Regions from separate parts of the Homo sapiens genome. Here all the other regions are linked to region 1. Evidence: fine-mapped expression QTL. A gene starts in region 1. Each other region holds a variant in brackets. All regions are shown on one strand. Distances are between the middles of the regions.

Region 1 (5,106 bases):
TTATCTAAAAGTTTTCTATCTTGCTAGACTGCCGTTTTCCTGGTCCTTGGGCTAGAGAGAGCAGGCTTTGGTTGTGGCTTTTCTTTTTCTGTGCCTATTGGCATTTCTGGGTTGGCAACTTGTTCGATTCCAAGTCTGAGATCTATGGAGCAGAAGGCAAACGCAGGGAACTCCCCATCCCCAAGCTCCCTAGCAGTTCTGCCTTTTTCCTCTTTCAGTCTTGTTCTGTTTGTTTTATATATAATGTGCAGGATATTTTGTTGTACTTATCAAGAAGAATAAGAAAAGTATATCTATTCCATCTCGGTGTGAATTTTAATACTGTTTGTTTATTTACTCAACAACTATTTTTTTGAGCACCTATGATACAACCGTGAGTAAATCAGTTGTGGTCTTTATTCTCATAAGCACAAGCAAACTTCAGTTGTAATATAGTGGTCAGGGTTATTACATGGGAAGTGCATGATGCTCAGAGCATCAGAGAGGTTTTCTTGAAAGAAGTTCCATTTAATTGAGATCTAGTAGGTGATAACCAGTCAAAAAGATGGAAAGAACATTTCAGTTAGAGCAAATACCAGCTAACAAGCTCTGGAAGTAAAAGAGTTACTCAAAGAACAAGTCATGAAGACTCTTTCACATTGCCTTATTGTGTGGGGACGGGGAGACTTTGAGCTGTCTTACAGAGAATGACAAGATCATTCTTGGCCTTTAGAGAGCTCCCTCTAATGGCCAGAAAGAAGGCAGGGAGGCTGGTTAAGACACTTAAGTTGTAGGTTGGAGGCCGGGCACGGTGGCTCACGTCTGTAATCCCAGCACTTTGGGAGGCCAAGGCAGGCGGATTACGAGGTCAGGAGATCGAGACCATCCTGGCTAACAAGGTGAAACCCCGTCTCTACTAAAAATACAAAAAATTAGCCAGGCATCGTGGCTGGCGCCTGTAGTCCCAGCCACTCGGGAGGCTGAGGCAGGAGAATGGCGTGAACCCGGGAGGCGGAGCTTGCAGTGAGCCGAGATCGCACCACTGTGCTCCAGCCTGGGCGACAGAGCGAAACTCCATCTCAAAAAAAAAAAAAAAAAAAAAAAAAACAGAAAGAAAGAAAGAAAAATGTAGGTTGGAAAGGGGAAAAGTCAACACTCAACATGTTCACAGATATTTAGGGATACATTCAACAAAGCTTGGTGCTTGATTAGATGTTAGGGGGAAGAAAAGAGGTTGTCAAAGAAAGATGATTCCAGTTTCTGCGTGTACAGTTGAGTGAATGGAGATGGCAGGTTTTGTTTATGTTTTTTAATTTTAAAAACCACCTGCAGGAGCACAATGGCATTTTGAGGCTGGGACACAGGAGGGACAGTGGGTCTGGGCTGTGGTCAAGAAGGTAATAAGTTCCATTTTGGACATGTTGAGTTTTTACATCAACCTGGGGCTGTCCGATTGGCATTTGAATATTTTTGTTTGGATGCCAGAAAGATACCTGAGCTGGGGATAGAGAGGTCATTCACTATTTCATTCAAAAAAAAAAAATGATTATGGAATGCATATCCTGTGCCAGGAACTATTTTAGTCATTGGGAGACAGCAGTGAACAAAACAGACAGAAAGCTTTGCCTTGATAGAGCTTATATTCTATAATAGTTTGAGGAAGACAGTCCAACAAACAGATAAGTAAAGTAGATGTAGTATATTGGATGGTGCTAAGTGCTGTAGAGAAAAATAAAGCTACGTGGAGCATAGAGAATGCTGGGGTAAGGAGAGTTACAACTGTAAATAGAATGGTCTAGGGGGATGTGACTGTAAAGCTGACATTTGAGCAAAGACCCAGGCAGACATCTGGAGAGAGTGTATTCACAGCAGAGGCAACAGCAGGTGCAAAGGTCCTGAGGTGGGAGTGTGAGAGACCAGTTGGAAGAGAGGCAAAGCTTGTCTGGCTGGAGCAGAATGACCAAGGTAGAGGGTAAGAAGCCATGGGGTCAGAGTGGACAATAAAAGGGCTTTGGTCTTCTTGCTGAGTAAAATGAAATCCAATGTGGGGTTTGGGGGCAGATGAGTGACATGAACTGACTTATGAAGTCCACAGCAAGAAATGTGGCAAGAGGTAATGGTGCCAATGGAGGTGGTGAGAAAGTGGTTAGATTCTGAAAATATGTCTAAGAGAGAGACCTGGAATAGTTCAAGTCAAAGGAAACAGAAAACAAAGGCCTCCATAGAAATAACATGTCTGAGAGGCAAGAGTTGGAGTCTGGGGGTAAATCCATCAACGTAAGAAAATCCAGAGGTAACACAGATCTGGACTAAGAAATAACAGACACCAGAGTTAGGATACCAGGCCAGGAGACAAGAGTTCAGTGAGCTAGAAACTCAGGCTGGCAGAGTGGAATACAAAAAAACTAGCCTGGAAGCAAGTGGTCAAAGTATTAAGATGTCTTGATCTTCAAAAATGGTGTATGACATTGAGAGAAGGCTTTGCAAGTTAGACTTCCCTATAACCTCTGTGCTTAGGTCAGTAGGGCAGTAGTAGTTTGCAGCTGGTTCTCAATGACATTCATTGGACTGACTTGCCCAGGGCTAGAACTCACCTCAGGTAGAGGCAAGATATCAGAACTGTCTGCAGTGGAAGTTGAAGGCACCTCTCTGCTCATGCACTCACCTTGGTCAGTCACCTCTATCTTGATCCTAAACCTTCTTCCCAACTCTGTAGTAATAGCCTGAGATTCTTGCCAAGGCCAGCTTCCCAGTGCTGTGGTACGTCTGCCACAATGATTGAGATGCAGTGGTCGATGCAGTGCCCTTCTCCCCAAGGCTCTTAATTCTTAGGCGTAGACTTGAAGAAGCCAGGAATACTTGTACTTCTGCAGGGATGAGTGAGGTGAAGCGGGAAGACGGAAAAGCAAATGTTGCATTCAGGAATTTGTCCTTGATTGTGAGGCTGGAAAGACAAGATTGCTTTGAGAAGCATTATGAGGAAAGAAATGAAGAGCAGGGCAAAATGATAGACCTTTGAAGTTTGAGCCATTATTGAATATACAAGTCATTGTATAGTCTTTTAACAGTTTCTACATCAGCCCCTCACCTGTGTCAAAGATAAGCAGAGAGCCTATTATATGTAATGTAGATCACAAACAATTGATGTGGCATGAGATTCTTCTAATAGACATGAAATATGAATGTGACATGAGCCAGACATAGAATGGATTTTCCAGCTTGCCGTAAATCTGAAAGGAGCCCCAACCATCTAACATACTGGTGTGGGGGAGCTTCCTTTTCCCTCATTTCTCCGTCCCCAGTCCCTGCCACCAGCAAAATTACTTTCAACCCTCTTTGCGGTAGAACTGAGAACACCAACAGAAGATGCATTTCATTTTTTGGGTTTAGTCTGTGCTGGTCAGCTTCCCTCAATACCCTAACTGGGAAAAATAAGTCAATTTTCCCTCATCTCTTGAAGTCTTCAAAATGAAAGTATATGTAATGACAGGTTGAAATGGATTTTTTCCATCCATCAGGGTCCCTACTTTTCTCTCCCTGCTTTGTGAAAGTTGTAAATCTCTCAAAAGTCATAAATGTAGCTCCCGCGGTGTAGGCCTGTTCCAGCTCATTCCAGTTCTAGGTTTTGGCCTTTATGTTTCTCTGCGTCCAGGTGTTAACTTTCTGCTGCCACTATGTGGCTGTGGCCAAGTCCCCTGCTCACATTTCCTGTGTGCTTATGGCTCAGGGGCCACTTTTTTTTTTTGGGGGGGGGGACAGGGTCTCACTCTGTCACCCAGGCTGGAGTGCAGTGACGCAATCTCCACTCACTGCAATCTCTGCTTCCCAGATTCAAGCAATTCTCCTGCCTCGGCCTCCTGAGTAACTGGGATTATAGGTGCCTTCCACCACTCCCAGCTAATTTTTGTATTTTTAATAGAGACGGGGTTTCACCGTGTTGGCCAGGCTGGTCTCGAACTCCTGACCTCAAGTGATCTGCCTGCCTCGGCCTCCCAACGTGCTGGGATTACAGACATGAGCCAGCGTGCCCAGCCATTAGGGGCCATCTTTACCCCTCCTCCGTGGCGCTCGGGGCCAGGAGCGCACACCTTGTGAGATGCAGCCCACGCTCTCAGGGCCGTCCTGCAACTCTGCACAGACTCCCAGGGCCAGGCAAGCCTGTCTCATGGTGTCGTTTGGCCGCATGTTCCTGCCTTTCTCTGCCTACCTTCTTCCCTTTTCTTTCCCCCTTATGCCCCCTTATGCATGCACAGTTTCAGACATGAGGTCAGAAAGGATTTGAGGATCTGATTGTTCACACCTGCCGATCCCTGAGAGTCCTGGGCAGCTGCTGCCATCACCCAGTGCAGTGGGATTGGTCTCTTCCTTGATGAGCTAAAATCAAAACATTTTCCCAGAATTAAGCAACCCAAGCCCTTCCCTTAGGACTGTCCTTGTTTTGACAGAGTTCTCTTGTTTCCTCCCCATTCTTCAGTTCCGAAGGTCTGTCATCTTGGATCTCTTACTGACCAGCTGTGCGACCTCAGGGACACCACTCAGCCTAGCTGGGCCTGGATTGTTTGAGATTTAAATGAGGAGTATGAAATAAATAGCATCTCAGGGCCTTTCTAGCTCTAGAATTCTCTTCACTGTCGTCATCTGGTATTCTGTAATGGCAATTTCATTCATTCTTTCTTGAATACATTCTACGTCTAATATAAAGATAAATATCTCACTTATTTGTGAAGATTTTGGTACAGAGGAATCTTTCAGCTATCGCGACTAACCAACCTATGTAATCCACTCCATCCCTGGCCCTCTGCTCTGCTTGATTTTTCCTTATACGCCTTATCATTATATTATATATGTTTATGCTTTGGCTATCCAGCAAAAGTCAGATTCATTTTGTCTCTGGTAGTTAGAAGTAGAGGGTGAAGGGGGTGGGGAATATATGCTTCCTGCTCCCACAACCTTGCCATCAGGCAATATATTACAATGGAAGCAAATCCTGCCAAGTGTACTAGCACAAAAACAGTCACAAAGTTTGTTTTTGAGCTCCAAGGAAGTCCATCTCGCTGTCCTTGGGTACTGAGCAAGCCCTTGCATGAAAGGGCCATGTGCTTGATATGCTGACAGCAGGGCCACCAG
Region 2 (5,106 bases), 110 kb before region 1:
TTACTTATTAACTCAGTACAGAAGCAGCTGAAGTTTTATATATTCTTTTTTTTATTTAAACTTTCTTTATTAAAACTTAAGCCAGAGAATTAAGATTCTCATCCTAGAGACCTTAAATAAAAGACCATGTTTTATCTACTTAAACAACTCCCTCCAACCATATCTGGTCCAGTTTTTAAATTGAGAAAAACTACGTGAAATAACATTCCAAAATGTTGGGAATGTTTCTTTTGTGGGCCTCTGGTGCACATAGGCCCCCGCACTCCACGCATTTCCTAGGAGTACAGTACTTGCCATCCTTTCTGCTTTGAAGCTTCTTCTCCCAGGGCCCTCCCACTCACAGCTTCCCAGAGGCGTTTCCTGAGACCACACACCCAGTGGGTCTCAGAGAGTTTCCTGTTTTGTCTCCTTGGCAGCACTTACAACTGATGCCTGAAAATATTTACTTCTTATGTTCTTCTTTCTCTCCTCCACCAGCATGTAAATTCCAAAGGGCTGGGACTGTCGTCTTGTTCAACATTGCTTAATCGCCCATGGCAGAGTGGGCATGGGTATTGTAAAAGACAGTGGAGTTCAAGCAGCAACCAGCATAGTCTGACTTGCAGCCATCTGTGTCATTGGCTAGTTAATCATGAAGTGAAATAGATAGGAAGCCTACTCAATTCTTACTTGATCTGTATAAGTAGAAAACTTATATGACTAGTGAATGAAAATCTAACTTGAGTCATGTCCCCTCCATCATTCCCAGACTGGAGCTGCTTTACAGACCCAGAACCAACTGAATGAAGGGGAGGCTGGGCCTCCTTGAAGAAGGATCTTTGTACCCAGCTAAATATTTATACTGTTAGTCTTTCTCCCAGCTTCCCCAAAGGGACTGAAGGCCTTTTACCAGGATGAGTGTGCATGGGAGAAAGGAAATAATCAGTCTTCTCAGGGCTTGTGGACACTGGCTCTAAACTGACACTAATTCCAGGAGACACAAAATGTCACTGTGGTCAACCAGTCAGAGCAGGGGCTTATGGAAGGCAGGTAATCAATGGTGTTTTAGCTCAGGTCTGTTTCACAGTGGGCCCAGTGAGTCAGGCACTGAATCCATCCCGTGCCTGATTCCACAGTTCTGGACTGCATAATTGGAACAGACCTACTCAGCAGCTGGCAGAATTCCCACATTGGTACAGAATCCCCACATTTAATTGGTACAGGGCCTGTCCATCAGCTCCATTTACTAGGAATTTTAGAACAAAGAGAAGTTCTAGTTCAGAGAGTCCAAACTTTTCATTTTGCAGATTGAGGTGCAGTGGTGGAACCAGGAATAACTCAGCTAGGACTTAAATTGCAATTAAAGTCATTTTAAACTTGCAACTCTGTAAATAAGTAAAATGTACATTCTGAATCCAAGGTTTACCTGTCTGTGTGTTGATTTTATCAAAAATGCTACAGATTTCCAGTTGCTGTGTCTTATTTCATTGCTGAAGCATCATTAGCAGCACTGTCTCTGCAAATAAAGGGGACTGGAAGGAGTTCTTTTTTATTTTATTTTTTGTTTTATTTTGTTTTTTGAGATGGGATCTCACTCTGTCACCCAGGCTGGAATGCAGTGGTGCGATCATGGCTCACTGCAGCCTTGACCTCCTGGGCTCAAGTGATCCTCCTACCTCAGCATCCTGAGTAGCTGGGACCACAGATGCATGCCACCACACCCAGCTAACTTTTAAAAATGTTTTGTACAAACAAGGTCTCCCTATGTTGCCAAGGCTGGTTTCAAACTCCTGGATTCAAGTAATCCTCCTAGCCTTGGCTTTCCAAAGTGCTGGGATTGCAGGCATGAGCTGCTGCACCTGGCCAAGCTCTTGTTTTAAACTGAGATCTACTTGGGTTTATATTTTTATTGTCTCCAAATGTGCTTTCCTCTTAATTCATCAAACCAAGTCATGAGCATATCTTCTTAGAAACACAAATATGTCCAGCTGACATATTGTATATGACTTTAAATGTTTATTCGGTACAATGAATGATTTTCCTGCCTGGGGACAACAGCGTTGTGTGGGAAGGAGGACTAGGACATCACCAATTACTCATCTGTCTATCACTTTCCTAAACGAATCTCACACCAAGAAACAGACACTTTCCTCCCCTCTTTTGTTATAGAAAATTAGAAAGATGGGAAATGGAGTTGGCACCATTGATTCATTTTCATTTGACCCAGAATTAAATTATTTGTAGCCAGTCACTGTTAATTATGGGAATGATAGTACTTTGGATGCTAGGCAATATCAGAGTCGGGAGCTTCTCACTGAGGGCCTGGCACTGCTAAGCAGGAAGGTCAGGAGAAAAATATAATAGCAACAGAAATTAAAATGAAATTTCAACGTGTCTGTATATCGTAAATGAAAGAATAGTAATTTCTTCCTCTGTGAATAGAGCCTACCAAATGTGTACTTCATAGCTATTTGCAATATTCATTCATTAGCTGTATTGAGTTATAGTAAGAATACCTTGGCTTTGTAGAAATCATCACCATTAACTGGAATTATTCAGAATGCTTTATATGTAGCATCCCATTTATTTCCACAATTGTTTTAAATAATTTGTCATGTAAAAATTGTGTGCCTTTTTTATTAGAAAATTGAGGCACAGAGGCCGGGTAC[G/A]GTGGCTCATGCCTGTAATCCCAGCACTTTGGGAGGCTGAGGTGGGCGGATCACGAGGTCAGGAGATCGAGACCATCCTGGCTAACATGGTGAAACCCCGTCTCTACTAAAAATACAAAAAATTAGCCAGGCGTGGTGGCAGGCGCCTGTAGTCCCAGCCACTCGGGAGGCTGAGGCAGGAGAATGGCGAACCTGGGAGGCGGAGCTTGCAGTGAGCTGAGCTCGCGCCACTGCACTCCAGCCTGGGCGACAGAGCGAGACTCCATCTCAAAAAAAAAAAAAAAAAAAAAGAAAGAAAAAGAAAATTGAGGCACGGATTGATTATTGCTTCCAAATATTCAACAGACACCCAGTCTTCTGAATTTTGGTCTGATTCTGAGCTATGAGGTTTTTCCCTTCAAAGTAGTCTTTTTCTTAAAATAATCATATTGGAAAAATGCAGTCATTTAAAATTGTTTAAGACTTTTAAAATGTATTTTATCAAACACCTCTATAGTGCTTGCCGCGTGAGAGATGCTGTGTTCAGCACTTTATATTAGTAAATATTGACTCTCATCAGTGACCCGATGAGAAAGATGCTATTCATTATTCATATATCTTAACTGTATGTCATAAATGAGGAAGTTGAAGTACAGAGAGGTTAAGTTCCTATCTGAGGTCACACAATAAGTAATGTAATCAGGTTTCATACCCAGGCAGTCTGGCTCCAGGGCCCATGCTCATAACCATCAGGCTGTGCTGTGCTTCAGACTCAACCAGAAATGTCTCTGATTTCATATGGCACAACGTATACATGATATGTGCTCATACGTGTTTGAACAGATCAGTCCAAAAATATCTCTGGCCCCAGAGCATCAGAAGGGAAAGACCTTCCCCAATATGTAAAATGAGGCAACAGTCAAGATTATCTTTAATCCAAAAATAATATAAAACCCAAATTGTAAACAGTGTGTCAGTGTTTTCTTAGAGCTGCGTTGTCCAACATGGTAACCACTAGCTTCATGTAGCTACCAAGCACTTGAAATGTGACTAGTCCAAGTTGAGATGTGTTGTAGGTATAAAATACATAGCAGTGGATTTCAAAGACCTAGAACATATAAAAGAATGCAAAATATCTCAATAATTTTACATTGATTACACGTTAAAATAATATTTTACATATATTGGGTTAAATGACTATATATTAAAATTAACTTTACGTGATTGTTTTGTTTTAATGTCTCTTCTGGAAAAATTTAAAATTACATACGTGGCTCACATTTTCTATTGGAAAGCACTGTCTTAGGCAATGCTTTTTACTTTCCAACAAAAAGGCTGACCTTTTGGACACATTTTGTTTCCCAGTATACCCTTTAGCAAAGGTACTATTGATCACAAAGGAGAAGGAACAGAACAAAAGATCTTCCAGACCCACAGTGTATAATTGTGAAAAATTAGCCATATGCACTCTTTAGAATTCACTCTCTGGAGCCCACAGCAGGAATTTGTGTGCTTCATGCCTGCACCTCCAACAACTGGTGATGTGCCTGGCCCAGAGTTTGATTGGGTGAGGGGGTGGATAGAGGGATAATGGGTGGATAATGGGTAAATGAAGGGTGGGTGGGAGGATGAGTGCAGGAATGGATGAGGAAATGTATACAGCAAGAGGCTAGATACATCTGCATGTTCTATCATTAATTATAGAACATCATAATGATCATCACCATCTTTATTCATGGCACCTTTAGATGCTATGGGAAGGCATTCTTCCAACTCTATCAATAGCTAATTTTTTTTCAAGACAGTATTAAAGTCTTGATCCATGACTACCCCACTTCCCTCAGTGGTACTAAGTCTGCTACTGTGGATGCATAGACCTCCACAGTTTTAGGGGGTTAGGCCACCAATCTGATAGCAAACCAGGGCTAAGGGAGTTGAATTGCAGCTGTTTTCTTGGCAATGCAGTTTTCCCCACAAATTATATACTTAAAGATCAATATTTTTTAAATAACCAAATTTTCTACTCATTATTCTATTCATAGTTTACATAATATTTAGAAAATGACAACTTCATATATCGAAGAATATTATTTTTCAAATTGTGGCTTTGGAAATTGAAGACTAAAGCTACCCAAATCATCCATCCTTTGGCATTGCCACTGGGCAAAGGAAATTCTTGTTCTTGATTTGATGATGAGTTAGGTTACCAGTATGTGTTTTTCTCCCATTTCTATCTTTATCACTGATAGCAAACATGTGCCTTCTGATCTATATAGCAACCTTATTTTCTGTGCCAACCTAGCCTATTCAGAAAGAGTGTTAGGTGTGTGCTCTTTCATCTAAGCCTCTGAGCAATCTCCCCAAGGTCTGTGATACTCTATTTACTTTCATAAAGTGGAAGAGACTGAAAGGTTCATCTTTGGACTGCTGCTCTAATCCCTTATTTCTGGGTCCAATTTATAACATAATAAATTGGCTC
Region 3 (5,106 bases), 52 kb after region 1:
ACACCGATATCCCATCCCGCAGCACGCTTTAAAAAGATTAAAGACTGTTATCACTCGCCTGCTACAGCATGGCCTTTTAAAGCCTATAAACTCTCCTTACAATTCCCCCATTTTACCTGTCCTAAAACCAGACAAGCCTTACAAGTTAGTTCAGGATCTGCGCCTTATCAACCAAATTGTTTTGCCTATCCACCCCGTGGTGCCAAACCCATATACTCTCCTATCCTCAATACCTGCCTCTACAACCCATTATTCTGTTCTGGATCTCAAACATGCTTTCTTTACTATTCCTTTGCACCCTTAATCCCAGCCTCTCTTCGCTTTCACTTGGACTGACCCTGACACCCATCAAGCTCAGCAAATTACCTAGGCTGTACTGCCGCAAAGCTTCACAGACAGCCCCCATTACTTCAATCAAGCCCAAATTTCTTCCTCATCTGTTACCTATCTCGGCATAATTCTCATAAAAACACACGTGCTCTCTCTGCCAATCGTGTCCCACTGATCTCTCAAACCCCAGCACCTTCTACAAAACAACTCCTTTCCTTCCTAGGCATGGTTAGTGTGGTCAGAATTCTTACACAAGAGCCAGGACCACACCCTGTAGCCTTTCTGTCCAAACAACTTGACCTTACTGTTTTAGCCTAGCCCTCATGTCTGCGTGTAGCGGCTGCCACTGCATTAATACTTTCAGAGGCCCTCAAAATCACAATCTATGCTCAACTCACTCTCTACAGTTCTCATAACTTCCAAAATCTATTTTCTTCCTCATACCTGACGCATATACTTTCTGCTCCCCGGCTCCTTCAGCTGTACTCACAATTACCATTGTTCCTGGCCCGGACTTCAATCTGGCCTCCCACATTATTCCTGATACCACACCTGACCCCCATGACTGTATCTCTCTGATCCACCTGATATTCACCCCATTTCCCCATATTTCCTTCTTTCCTGTTCCTCACCCTGATCACGCTTGATTTATTGATGGTCCACCAGGCCTAATCGCCACACACCAGCAAAGGCAGGTTATACTATAGTACAAGCCACTAGCCCGCCTCTTAGAACCTCTCATTTCCTTTCCATCGTGGAAATCTATCCTCAAGGAAATAACTTCTCAGTGTTCCATCTGCTATTCTACTACTCCTCAGGGATTATTCAGGTCCCCTCCCTTCCCTACCCATCAAGCTCGAGGATTTGCCCCATCCAGGACTGGCAAATTAGCTTTACTCAACATGCCCTGAGTCAGATAACTAAAATACCTCTTAGTCTAGGTAGATACTTTCACTGGATAGGTAGAGGCCTTTCCTACAGGGTCTGAGAAGGCCACCACAGTCATTTCTTCTGTTCTGTCGGACATAATTCCTCAGTTTAGCCTTCCCACCTCAATACAGTCTGAAAACAGATGAGCCTTTATTAGTCAAATCAGCTAAGCAGTTTTTCAGGCTCTTAGTATTCAGTGAAACCTTTATATCCCTTACGGTCCTCCATCTTCAAGAAAAGTAGAATGGACTAAAGGTCTTTTAAAAACACACCTCACCAAGCTCAGCCACCAAAAAGGACCGGACAATACTGTTACCACTTTCCCTTCTCAGAATTCAGGCCTGTCCTCGGAATGCTACAGGGTACAGCCCATTTGAGCTCCTGTGTAGACGCTCGTTTTTATTAGGCCCCAGTCTCATTCCAGACACCAGACCAACTTAGACTGTGCCCCCGAAAACTTGTCATCCCTACTATCTTCTGTCTAGTCATACTCCTATTCACCGTTCTCAACTACTCATACATGCCCTGCTCTTGTTTACACTGCCGGTTTACACTGTTTTTCCAAGCCATCACAGCTGATATCTCCTGGTGCTATCCCCAAACTGCCACTCTTAACTCTTGAAGTAAATAAATAATCTTTGCTGGCAGGACTATGCTGAATCTCCTTAGGCACTCTCTAATCAGATATCCTGAGTCGTCCCAATTCTTAGACCTTTTATACCTGTTTTTCTCCTTCTGTTATTCCATTTAGTTTCTCAATTCATCCAAAACCATATCCAGGCCATCACCAATCATTCTATATGACAAATGTTTCTTCTAACATCCCCACAAAATCACCCCTTACCATAAGACCTCCCTTCAGCTTAATCTCTCCCACTCTAGGTTCCCACACTGCCCCTAACCCCGCTTGAAGCAGCCCTGAGAAACATCGCCCATTCTCTCTCCATATCACCCCCCAAAAATTTTCGCCACCCCAACACTTCAACACTATTTTGTTTTATTTTTCTTATTAATATAAGAAGGCAGGAATGTCAGGCCTCTGAGCCCAAGCCAAGCCATCACGTCCCCTGTGACTTGCACGTATACGCCCAGATGGCCTGAAGTAACTGAAGAATCACAAAAGAAGTGAATATGCCCTG[T/C]CCCGCCTTAACTGATGACATTCCACCACAAAAGTGTAAATGGCCGGTCCTTGCCTTACGTGATGACATTACCTTGTGAAAGTCCTTTTCCTGGCTCATCCTGGCTCAAAAAACACCCCCACTGAGCACCTTGCGACCCCCACTCCTGCCTGCCAGAGAACAAACCCCCTTTGACTATAATTTTCCTTTACCTGCCCAAATCCTATAAAACGGCCCCACCCTTATCTCCCTTCGCTGACTCTTTTTGGACTCAGCCCGCCTGCACCCAGGTGAAATAAACAGCCATGTTGCTCACACAAAGCCTGTTTGGTGGTCTCTTCACACGGACGCTCATGAAACCCATCTCTACTAAAAATACAAAAAATTAGTGGGGCGTGGTGGCGCTCGCCTGTAATCCCAGCTACTCAGGAGGCTGAGGCAGGAGAATTGCTTGAACCCGGGAGGTGGCGGTTGCAGTGAGCCAAGATAGTGCCACTGCACTCCAGCCTGGGCAACAGAGTAAGACTCCGTCTCAAGGAGAAAAACAAACAACTCTTGAGCAATGAGAGTTGATGCTCTTCTGGGTTGGTGAATACATTGAGGTGCTAGGAGGGTGGTGTGTCTGGAGAGGGCTTTCCCTGATCCCCATACCTCGCCCTATGCATCTCTTCCATTTGACTTCCTGAGTTGCAGCCTTTATAACAAACTGATCAACATAAATAAGGTATCCCTGAGTTCTGTGAGCCATTATTTCAAATTATCGAATCGGGTGGGGGGTGGCGGGGGGCGGTTACAGTAGCTCTTGATTTGTAGCAAGGACAGCCAGAAGTGCCGGAACCTGAGACTTGTAACTGATGTGAAGTGGGAGGAGCCTTGTGGGACTGAGTCCTTAACCTGTGGTGTCTATGCTAGTAATAGCTTTGGGCAGCAAGAAATAAAAATAAAATCCTAAACTGCCCAACGGACTAAACAGACCCTCTCTTGGTTAAAGAGACCCCATAGTAACCTTGAAAATTGAGTTCTGTGTCATGGTGGGATAGGAGGTTGGACACACCTTATTATGCCCTCTCCCTAGCTAAGCATGATAAGGCTTTCTTTCCTAAGGGCTTAACAGAAACCAGCCCTTTCAAAAGGCTCTCGTATCAACCAACCATGTGAGGCTGCCCCCCCATGATAAGAGGCCACTGACCACGGAGCGGTTCTGGCCAGTCTACAAAGAATGTGCAGTAGGGGTTTCTGTGCTCTCTGCTTCATCTTTTGGGGTCAGAGGGCTGAAAACTCTACCCTCAGATCATGCTATCACCACCGTTTTTGTACACGGGACACACGAAGGGGCATGAAGCTCATGTTTCTCCTTTCATAAATATTCACAACTCCTGCTACAGCTTATTGAATATGCATATTCGGCCAGCCCGCTCGGTATAAATTCATGTGCCCTTTGCCACTCCCTTGACGCATCTGTTTCTGGCTTCTGGCCAGCACCTACACTTCCCAGCCTGTCACTCTGCAGGCTGCAACGCTTTATGAGAAAGAAAACTCTCCTTTCCACATGTATAGGCCTTGTCATTCTCAGTTGACAGTAGTTATTGTCAGAATTGAATTGAATTTTAGGATATTCATTTAATGTTCACAGAGAATTGGTGGTTGGTCTTGGAAAACACCCCAGACTAACTCAATGTTCTTTCCATTACACTGCCTTCACAGCTGAATAAAAAGCCAAGAAACTTATAGTGTCACTAGAAACCACGGACAACTGCAAATCAATAAAAATTGATTTCAAAAGAATCAAGCTGCCAGGTTGGTGTGCCTCTAATTTCAGCACTTTGGGAAGTTGAGGCAGGAGGATTGTTGGAGCCCAGGAGTTCAACACCAGCCTGGGCAACATAGTGAGACCTCATCTCTATTAAAAAAGAAAAAAAAGTAATAATTGAAAATAAAAGAATCAAACTGTTGTTTATTTTTTTTTGAGACAGGGTCTTGCTCTGTCATCCAGGCTGGAGTGCAGTGGTGTGATCTCGGCTCACTGCAACCTCTGCCTCCCAGGTTCAAGCGATTCTTGTGCCTCAGCCTCCTGAGTAGCTGGGACTACAGGCACCCGCCGCCATGCCTGGCTAATTTTTGTATTTTTAGTACAGACGGGGTTTCGCCATGTTGGCCAGGCTGGTTTTGAACTCCTGACCTCAGGTGATTCACCCCCCTGGGCCTCCCAAAGTGCTGGGATTATAGGCGTGAGCCACCACGCCTGGCCAAGAATCAAGCCTTTTTAGGTCATCTCTGTACACCCATCAAGTACTCAGAGATACCCAATCAATGCTTGACCTAGTGAATGGGCAAATAAAATGAATGAATCCATTTTCAAATTATAGTTTAATCTGGGGAAAAGTAAGATTCATTTAAAAGCCCCTTTTCACTAACAACTTAAGGTGTAATTTTATTTCTGACCAATTGTCTTATTTTTAATGGAATCAAATCTATCATATAAAATACATAGCTCTAGCTTACCCCCAAGGTTGATGTACAGCAAATTCAGTAATTTTCTTAACCTAATGTGATCATTTGGTTTAAAAACACTGAAGGCTCCTTTAAATATCCAGAGTTCAAGTTTCAAGTCATCAAAACTCATGATTTGTCCTGATTCCAAGATAAAAGAAACAGGTGACCTGAGCTGCTGGTGCTAGGAACCACTGCTGCAGAGAAGGCAAAGTTTCTTCTGTCTGACCATCGACAG
Region 4 (5,106 bases), 170 kb after region 1:
CTTCTTGAAGCCACCCAGCAGAGGCAGGCCTGGGAGGAAGGCAGCAATTGTGGCAAGAAAGGAAAAGTCCTGGAGGTCAAGAAATGAGTGGCAAGGTTAGGGGTGAGAGGGAAGAGTGAAGCCCTGAGAAGTGAGGTGATGGACAGGATGTGGCCTGGGAGAAACGTTTATTTGGGAAAGTGATGACTATCCTCTCTTTGTCCTGGGAGTCAAGGAAATTTGGCAAACAACCACCCCTGGAGTGGGTTTATGAGGGGTGGGATTTTGAAGCAAAAGCCAGCTTTTCATTAGACAAGTAGGTAGAGAAAGTGTAAACAAAAAGTGATAATATAGGAGAATTACAACGGGTCAGGAGTTCAGAGGCTCATTGGAAGGAGTGAGTAGGCTTGGGGTATGTTTAAGGAGGGCTGGTTAGCAGGATGGAGACAGATGACTTTATATGAGTTCTGGGGGGGTCAGGACTTTTACTAGAGTTTACTAGGAAACCAAATCCACTGCAGAAACAGGCATAGATTTATGTAACTGTGGTAGGGGCCCATTAGAGATCTTGTGTTACTGATTTACTAATTGTGCTACTGATTTATTACTAATTCATTAGCTGTGACATACACTTTCAGCAAGTGACTAAAACCTTATGACCCAGAGTAAAATAATTTTATATCATGACCCAGGTAGCTGTGTGATATGTGTAATAAGTGGGCGTGTGTGTCTAACTAAAGATTCACCGAGCAACACTTAACTTCTACTATATGCAACAGCCTCTTATGTTTACTATTCTGTTCTGTTCTAATTCATTTTCTAAGAAAATGCTGGTCATGAACCACTGTGTTGATTTTATGATCCGTTAAAACATTACAGGTCAGGCATGGTGGCTATAATCCCAGGACTTTGGGAGGCCAAGATGGGTAGATTGCCTCAGCCCAGGAGTTTGAGACCAGCCTGGGCAACATGGTGAAACCCTGTCTCTGCACAAAATACAAAAAAAAAAATTAACCAGGCATGGTGGTGCACGCCTGTAGTTTCAGCTACTTGGGAGGCTGAGGTAGGAGGATCACCTGAGCCTGGGAGGTAGAGGCTGCAGTGCACAGTGATCACACCACTGCACTCCATCCTGTGTGAAAGAGTGATACCCTGTCTCAAATCAAAACAAAATAAAACATTACAGCCGCATTTGAATAAAGTGCTTTACACTATCTTGAGCATGTTTTGGTAATAGTTATGTTCTGCATAACAATATCCCATAAGATTATAATGGGGCTGAAAAATTCCCAATCAAAGCATTACTCACGTGTTTGTGGTGATGCTGGTATAAACCTACTGTGCTGCCAGTCATATGAAAGTATAGCGCATACAAATGTGTACAGTACATAATACTTCATAATGGTAATACTTATGTTACTGCTTTATGTATTTACTATGTTTTTATGTTATTTTTAGAGTGAACTTTCTCTACTTAAAATAAAAAGCAAATTGTAAAATGGCCCCAGGCAGGCCCTTTTGGAGGCACTGGAGGAGAAGGCATTGTTATCATAGGAGATAACAGCTCCATGCAGACCTTTCAGTGGGACAAGATGTGGAGGTGGAAGACAGTGATATTGATGATCCTGACTCATGTGGGATCTTGCTAATATGTGTGTTTGTGTCTTAGTTTATAGCAAAAAAGTTTAAAAAGTAAAAAAAAAAATTAAAAAGTTAAAAATAGAAAAAAGCTTATAGAATAAGGACATAAAGGGAAAAATATTTTTGTACAGCAGTAAAATGTATTTGTGTTAAGCTAATGAGTCAAAAAGTTAAAATTCAAAAGTTTATAAAGTAAAAAAGTTACAGTAAGCTAGGGTTAATTTATTATTGAAGAAAGAACCTTTCTTTTTCTTTTTTTGAGATGGAGTTTCGCTCTTGTCACCCAGGCTGGAGTGCAATGGTGTGGTGGCTCACGCCTGTAATCCCAGCACTTTGGGAGGCCAAGGCGGGTGGATCACCTGAGGCCAAGAGTTTGAGACCAGCCTGGCCAACATGGCAAAACCCCTATCTCTACTAAAAATACAAAAATTAGCCAGGCGTGGTGGTGCATACCTATAATCCCAGCTACTTGGGAGGCTGAGGAAGGAGAATCACTTGAACCCAGGAGGTGGAGGTTGCAGTGAGCCGAGATCGTGCCACTGCACTTCAGCCTAGGAGACAGTGAGACTCCGCCTCAAGAAAAAAAATAATTTAGCATACCCTAAGTGTACGATGTTTATAAAGTCTACAGTAGTGTACGGTAATGTCCTAGGGCTTCACATTCACTATCCTAAAGGACAGTGACACAAGTCCTGTCCTCAAGTGATCCGCCCACCTTGGCCTCCCAAAGTGTTGGGATTACAGGCGTGAGCCAGGCGTGGTTGTGCGCACATGTAATCCCAGCTACAGGCCGGGCCCCCTTTTTATGTTTAGATACACAAATACCACCATGCTACAACTGCCTACAGTACTGAGTATAGTCACATGCTGTATGGGTGTGTAGCCCAGGAGCAATAGGCCATATATCCTAGGTGTGTAGAAGGCTGTACCATCTAGGTTTGTTTAAGTGCACTCTGTGATGTTTGCGCAATGACGGAATCACCTAATGACATACTTCTCAGAACACATTTCCCTCATTAAGTGATACATGACCGCACTAGGTGCTGCTTCCTAGGCATCTCTGGGAGGAAGAACATTAATTTTAATTTTCTGTACCTAGTTCATACTTGGGGTTTATTGTACCATCTGGGAGAAACCAGGAGGTGTTTAGTTAGGCCTTTCCCTGCTCACAACTTTCATAGGCTCCGTTTTCCCTGCAGGATCATGGAAGGGCACCTCCTGAGCCTGGCCCAGGAGCCCATACTCACCCCTTTTACACCGCCTCCGCCTTCCCGCCATGGTTGATCGTTCTCTCCTCAGTTATGCCTCAGGTCCCTGTCCTGCTTCCACTGTGCATAGTATGCTTTATGGTAGCTTTCTCCATGTGTTGTCCTCTCTTAGCAGTCAGGGAGCTCCCTGAGGAAGACATTCTC[A/G]CTCGCTGTACCCCACTGCCTTGCACGGGGCCTGTGCAGAATGGGTGCTAGGTTGCTTTGCCTGAGTGAGTGTTGTGATCTCAGAAGTTCTGGCTTAGGCTTCTTGTCCCTGTGCTTTTGTCTAGAGAGGCTTTGTGAGGGACGCTGATTCTGTTGGATAGCCTTTGAATGATTTTCATTCTCAATTGCATGGATCGCTTTGGGGAACACAGACCAGCTGGCTGTGCTTGGCAGCAAGGTGTTGTGTGGTGGAAATGGCTGAATTCCACATATCCTCTGTTACTCACAGACATTTAGGGGAGCACGTGCCATCCCTCTCACAATTTTGAATACATAGGACCGGGTGCTCCTCACCCTTCCATTTCAGTGGGATAGTTTGTCTAGCAGCTGCTCTGTGCTGATGACATTATGAAATAGGGATTTTAAAGGACCTCTGTGCAAATGGAGCCCCTCAACCCCTGACGATGTGTTCTGCACAAATAGATTTAAGTAGGCTTTTTATGCATCAGAACTGCCTGCAATCTGAAACACACCAACAAGACAGGTTCAAGGATGAATTAACAAAGGTTCAGCAGACTTAAATGATATTCAGAAGTCTTGTGGCTAAGTCAAATTATAAATAAACTCATGTGTGTGGTGTAGAACTGTGTGTGTGTGTTGGTTTTGAGAGACTGATAGAAGGAAGAAGTAGATGGAGTATTATTTTCTTACTCCTGATGTGTCTCCCAGGCTGGATGATGACAAAGAACAAAGGAGAAGTTGTCAGGCTCAGTCAAGGAGAAGGGAGGAGCGATATGGTTTAAGTGTGGGAGGAAGAGAATTGAAGGGACATTTGTGCCACTTTACGCACCCACAGAGCTGTTTGTGTAGGTGGGGGCTGGGCAGGGAGTGTCACCAGAGACTTTGACTTCTCTGCCTCAGAACTTCACTCAGTGGGGTGTCTGTGTGCCTCAGATTAATGTCAGCCTGCTCAGGGAGAAGCAAATATGTGTCCTCTGAGGGATAAGGCACATATTTCACATACCCTCTGTTCTGGATGGAGCTGAGCTCAAGGGACTGGGTGGAGAGGAGGTCCTCTTCTCTCAAACATGGCCCTTCTTTCTCGCAGCCATACTTTTGCTAATCCCCTCTCTCTGGAATAGTTTTCTTATTCCTTTCTCCCTCAATTATCATTTTACTCCTTTTAAAGTCTACCTGGTCTTCATAGATGAACCCAGAGCTTATCTTTTCTCTGCAGATTTCTTGGTCACCCAAATAGTGGTAATTTTTCTTCTGAACGCCCCTAGCACTTACTGTCCATATCACTTCTGTGTCATGTATAACAGAATAGCAGATGGAGGAAGCTCAGTGTTTTTGTGTCTCATATACATAGGCAACTTCCATATTATTGTTCTGTATGTTATCTTGTCTCCCCAAATACAGCCCCAATGTGTCAATTCTTACCATGTCTGCTACAGTTCCTAGGGGATTTTGCAGGGGGAAAGAAGTGAGTTGTCATGTAAATGAAATAATGGTGTACCTTGACTGAGGATGTGAGAGAATTTTTTGTGCATCCCTGGGCACACAGCTGTCTTAGTCTCTTGTGCCCCTATAACAGAGTACCTGAGACTGAGTAACTTATAAAGAACAGAAATTTGTTTCTCGCAGTTCTGGAGACTGAATGTCCAAGATCAAAGTACTGGTGGGTTTGGTGTCCCATACCAGCTGGTTATCTGTTTCCAAGATGGCATCTTGTAGCTGCATCCTCCGTTGGTGGAAGTGATGGAAGGAAGGTCAATAAGGCCCTACCTAGTTCCCTCCAGCCCTTTTATAAGGTCACTAATCCCATTCATGAGAGCTCTGCCCTCATGACTTAATCATCTCCTAAAGGATCCACCTCTTAATGCTATCACAATGGTGATGAAGTTTCAACATATGAATTTGGGGGCACACATTCAGGCCATAGCAGCAGCCTTATATGGGAACTGACAATATTGTCTCTACCGGGGCTGTCCTCTATATAGAAATATAACAGGAGCCACATGTATAATTTTACCTTTTCTACTAGCCACAGTAAAAAAGTAGAAAAACAGGT
Region 5 (5,106 bases), 13 kb before region 1:
TTACATACCTGGGGTTCTCCAGCTAACCATAGGCCATCTCTCAAGCTTGATTTTTGCAGATTAATGCTGGGGGAGAGGGACACATGGATTGCTGTATGATGAATTACTCATAATGTTATAGGGAGCCAGCCATTCTCCGGGAACTATTACCAGTCTGAAAACATCAGGGAGTTGCTCATTGCCTCTGGCATGCTAGTGCCTTTACAAACTCACATTTCTTTGTCTTTGCAGGTACTATGGATTATCCGTTTGGTTCCCTGATGTCATTAAACCTCTGCAGTCCGATGAATATGCATTGCTAACCAGAAATGTGGAGAGAGATAAATATGCAAATTTCACTATTAACTTTACAATGGAAAATCAGATTCATACTGGAATGGAATACGACAATGGCAGGTCTAGAAACTTGAAATAATTTAATTTGCTACCTATTCACAAAAACTTATTTCTTCTTAGCTTTCCCTGCACTGAAACAGGCATAGTTTTTTGTTTGTTTGTTTTAGTTTGTACATTTAGTCATTTTCATGATGAATTTCAATACTTCTTAATAGGCTTTAAATAAAAGGTACAAATGTATCCATTACTTCACTTAAAACTATTTTTGCAGCTAAGTTGCTTCATATTTATTAGGTAGTGGACTTGACTGGTGTGGAAGGAAAATTTAGAGCAATGTTGGAGAGCAACAAAAATAATGGAAGGAAGAGAAGAGTGAAGAGTATGGGAAAATAAGACAGGCTATAGGATTATTTAATTCACAGAAGAAATCTGAAATGTGATTATATGAGTCTTCTATTCCTGAGAAACAGAGCCACTTTTCAGAATTCATCCTTCCCAATACGCTGAATCCAGAATTGAGGTTAAATTGCATCAGGAAGAGTTTCAATTAGAGAACAGGAATCATTCCCCAAAGTAAAGGGCTTTGAAAGACGGAAGGGTCTCCTTTATGGGATCTGAAATACTTCTTGATGACAAGAGAGAACTGACTCAGGGAGGTGGTCCTGGGTCATTCTTTTAGAGATGGAAAAGAGTAGACCAAGTACTTGTTTATATCCAAGTATTTTTGTTGCCTGAACAAATAATTGCCAGTGTAAGTTCATGATAGTTTACATCATTCTTAGGAAGTTGTCCCAATTTCAAAAGTGATAAAATAAAACTCTAAAATAATCAAAGTTCCCCAGGGCAAAAACCAGTTCAGAAAGATGAAAAAGAATTCAGTGGGATGCTTATGATCTATGTAATGGAAAAGAGGGTTACTAACTAGGAGGTAATTGTTCAAATTAGCAATTCAATGAAGGAACTAATCATCATCCAAGCCAAGTGGGATCACCTTCACTCTCCCACATAAAATACTGACTTGAATCTGCACTTAGCATTTCACAGAAAGCTTAGTGTCAAGTCCTCTGTGATGCCAGGGTGAAAACTGACTTTCAAAAGTATTGTTACTCCATTAGAAATTTCTAATATATGTTTGTGTCTCTGACAGTCATATTTTTAGTAATATATGTTAAAGTTCTAAACTGGATACTCAGTCACTGCTTAGAACTTTTTTACATTAGCAATATAATGATTACTAATTTTAATAGTATTACAGTTTTTGTAAAACATATGTTACACATTTATTTTAAAAGATGATAGAAACAATTTTTTTGTCCTTCAGGAAAATTTGAAATACCATTAACGAAATTTTTTAAAAAATAGCTTTTTTATTCAGCATCATAAAATGGCAACTCTTTATATACTGATACGGAATAACCTCCAAGGTAGACTAGAAGGAGATAAAGCAGGTGTACTTTAGACACAGAATGCTCCTGGAGGAGCACACAAGAAACTGACAACAATGGTTATTCTGGGCAGAGGAACTTGTGGCCTGGGGATGGATGGGAAAAGACTGACTTTTTCCATTTTCAACCTTTCGAATTGTGCACCATGTGTACTCTCTGAATTATCCATTCAAAAAATAAAACTGATTCATTCCCTTTTCCAAATTCAGTTCCATGACAGAAAAAATTGATAACTTTTTAAAGATGTGCCATTATTTAGTCTCTTTTGGTGCATTTAGATGTTTTTACTCTGGGTCCCTGGAGTGGGGATTGAAACGAGATCATTATTATTATTTCCAGGTAATGTACCATGGGAATGATTTCTTTTTTAAGCTGATTGGTCTGTGAGGCCATGTGCATTTTGAACCAACACACGTAATTGGGTATTAGGGAGAGAATAAATTTGAAAGTACTCAATAGTTAGTAAACTGCTTTTAAATCAACCTACTTACCTAGAAGGATCAGTCCCTTTCTGCCCCTAATAAGAGTGGTATTGACATAACAACTCCTTCCCGAGGAGAACAAGCATTTTCCTCTCAGTGACTGGCTAAGTGTACATTCATAGTCTCTTAATAAAGTACCAGGACACGTTAATGAATATTTATCTGTGTCTGCTGGGAGTCCTTATCAATGCTGATAAGGCCTGGATCATGGACTCTTCTAAGATGTTATTATCATTATGACTGTTACCATTTTTACCACGTAGAATTCCCCCTTATAATACCCAAAAATATACCTGAACAGGTTTCATCATTCTTCATGTTTCCAAAAATAAGCAGAGTTCTCATAATTCCTTTTGGTTCAAGGACTATCTGTTGGCTGTGAGAAGAAAAATTATCCTGGAAATGAGCGTCACCTATGAGTTTCTTCAACCCCAAGTCAGTTATTCCTCACATAAATGAAACAGAATTCTCATGCTCTCTCTTCAGGATAATTACAGGTCCCTACACTAGAATGAAGAAGACTTGGATTTTCAGCTAGGGAAAAATAAAGTTATTAAAAGATCGGGTAGGAGGACATCCTTAAGTTAGAGCCATTAACCCCAAATAGAGAATATTCAAATAAAGATATACATGAAGAGACGATAGGATTAAAACCTAAAGAATAGCCCCAGGTAATCCCCAAACTATCTTCAGTTGCATACCCCACAAAACTTTTTACCAACATTACAAAAAGCTAAGGGAAGTTAGGAGTGTCATCTCTTTTCCTGGTGAAAAATAATATTGGTAAGCAATAAGATAGCCAAAGGTCAGCCTGGATGAGAA[A/T]AAGGGGAAAAAGCAGAGAGCTAAGAAAATCAAGAACTCTGTGTTCTTTATAATTAAGACAGTCCATAGTGGGGCATTCCATCTCTAAAACTATTTGACTTAGCTTTGAACTTTGATGGACACAGTCATTGATTGATATGAATTTTTCTGTGTGTTGGGCAGATTCATAGGGGTCAAGTTCAAATCTGTAACTTTCAAAGACTCTGTTTTTAAGTCCTGCACCTTTGAGGATGTAACTTCAGTGAACACCTACTTCAAGAACTGCACATTTATTGACACTGTTTTTGACAACACAGGTAGGTGTGCTACTTAGTACTGCCTCTACCTGAGGCCTCTCCAAAGGGCCCACTGTGATAACCATGTGATAATGTGGGCAGAGGCTTATGCGGGAAGTGGATATTAAAGAATAAATGGAACAAGTTCTCTAAATCAGGTTGGATCAAAGGTTGGCTTGTATTGTTTGTCTTTGTCAGATTTAGTGCAAATGGAGCTTGCCAAAGTTCAAAAGTTGGCAACAACAACAACAAAAAAATCCTTTGATGAATAAATTTTTAAAGCAAAGACCTAACCTGTAGTTTATTTGTTTTGATAATCCTGGGTTCAAAATCTGGTGTTTGTTTAAATGCCTCAACTCTATAGCCAACAGAGATAGACAACATGTGGCTATGCTCAGATACATATATATTTTGGCCAAATCCATATAATGGGGTATTTTAAACTCCCCAGGGGGAAAAAAAAGGAAGGCAAACAAGCATTGATTGAACACCTATATACTGTTTTCTACTCTAGGTCATTAGACATTCATTATCTCATTTAGTTTTCACAGTAGCTGAGGCTTAGGAAAGTTAAGTAATTTGTCCACAATTATAGAACTAGTAATAACAGATGTTTGAACCCAGATTTATTTGATTTCAAAGCCTGTGCCTTCCACTTTCCCACTCCCAAACATTGGTCTGTGTGTCCTATAAAATGAATCCAGCATAACAGCGTGGCATTGGCAGGAGCATCAGCATTTGCCCTGTTGCCAGACCTGCCTTCTTAGTGCTCAGACAAGGGCTCTGCCTAGCTCCAAAGAAGAATGAGGTCAGGTGTCTTTCTGTTTTTTGTTTTTTGAGCAATGCTATCTACCTGTCTTCTAACCCATTAAACCTCAGAAGACGAACATTTTGTCAGATCTTGATCAGCAAGGAAGATAGTTTCAATTCTCACAGCCTTTTAGCAGAAACCACCACCATCTGCAACTCTTCTTGGATGGTTTCAAATTCAAGAAAAGATTAGCAATGAATGCTGGTGACCTTCAGATGAGGCTGACTCTTGTTCCTCAGTAGATTCATGCACATAGACTTTAAATTATAAATTCAGCCTCAGGAAAGACTTGTTCCTTCTCTGTGCCCTCTAGTCTCATAAAATGGCAATGATAAGGCTGACTCTTGCACTTTTTTTTCCTTAGAGACAGGGTCTTGCTCTGTCATCCAGGCTGGAGTACAGTGGCGCAATCACAGCTCACTGCGGCCTCAAATAAAAAATTATTATTATTATTATTATTATTATTATTATTATTTTTGTAGAGATGGTGTCTCACTATGTTGTCCAAGCTAGTCTTGAACTCCTGGCTCAAGCAATCCTCCTGCCTCATCCTCCCAAAGCACTGGGATTACAGGCATGAGGCACCACACCCAGCCCATGCACATTTTGAAACAAATTGTTTTTATAATTGTAGTATGGACACTATTAGTACTATAATGATAGTCTTTATGTAACATGATAATTAGGACATAGTAATATTGTAAAGGAGTAAGCAAGTAATATAATTAGCAATGGCCGACCATAGGAAATCAGAAGATAACTGGACCCCTTAATTTAATGTATTCCTTTATTCAGCAAAGGTATCTCATCATTCACCTACTTTATGATGTGAAGACCCAGACTAGATCCTATGCTTTGGCCAGAAGACCCAAAAAGTCAAGCTAGCATAGGCCTGAAAGCCCTCAAGGAATTTACAATACTGGTTTCCTCTCCGA

The links.
Region 2: its variant is fine-mapped to the expression of SV2C-AS2 in whole blood (INTERVAL, PIP above 0.99).
Region 3: its variant is fine-mapped to the expression of SV2C-AS2 in whole blood (INTERVAL, PIP 0.95).
Region 4: its variant is fine-mapped to the expression of SV2C-AS2 in whole blood (INTERVAL, PIP above 0.99).
Region 5: its variant is fine-mapped to the expression of SV2C-AS2 in whole blood (INTERVAL, PIP above 0.99).

The regions. Positions count from the first base shown.
Region 1 is chr5:76,308,540-76,313,645 of GRCh38, forward strand. It overlaps SV2C-AS2 (SV2C antisense RNA 2), which reads right to left and starts at 3,090. Exons shown (of 4, transcript XR_001742750.2): 1 at 2,645-3,090. The region is part of intron 12 of SV2C (synaptic vesicle glycoprotein 2C); the gene reads left to right.
Region 2 is chr5:76,199,099-76,204,204 of GRCh38, forward strand. The region is part of intron 3 of SV2C (synaptic vesicle glycoprotein 2C); the gene reads left to right. Among named protein-coding and RNA genes, the nearest start is that of SV2C-AS2, 110 kb to the right of the region's middle. The variant G/A (reference allele first, on the strand shown) is at 2,649.
Region 3 is chr5:76,360,337-76,365,442 of GRCh38, forward strand. No RefSeq gene overlaps it. Among named protein-coding and RNA genes, the nearest start is that of IQGAP2, 40 kb to the right of the region's middle. The variant T/C (reference allele first, on the strand shown) is at 2,400.
Region 4 is chr5:76,476,203-76,481,308 of GRCh38, forward strand. All of the region lies in intron 2 of IQGAP2 (IQ motif containing GTPase activating protein 2), which reads left to right. Among named protein-coding and RNA genes, the nearest start is that of IQGAP2, 75 kb to the left of the region's middle. The variant A/G (reference allele first, on the strand shown) is at 3,033.
Region 5 is chr5:76,295,547-76,300,652 of GRCh38, forward strand. SV2C (synaptic vesicle glycoprotein 2C) reads left to right here. Exons shown (of 13, transcript NM_014979.4): 9 at 232-396; 10 at 3,248-3,381. SV2C-AS2 (SV2C antisense RNA 2) reads right to left here. Exons shown (of 4, transcript XR_001742750.2): 2 at 2,557-2,639; 3 at 214-298. Among named protein-coding and RNA genes, the nearest start is that of SV2C-AS2, 14 kb to the right of the region's middle. RefSeq lists enhancers at 1-668, 648-1,530. The variant A/T (reference allele first, on the strand shown) is at 3,086.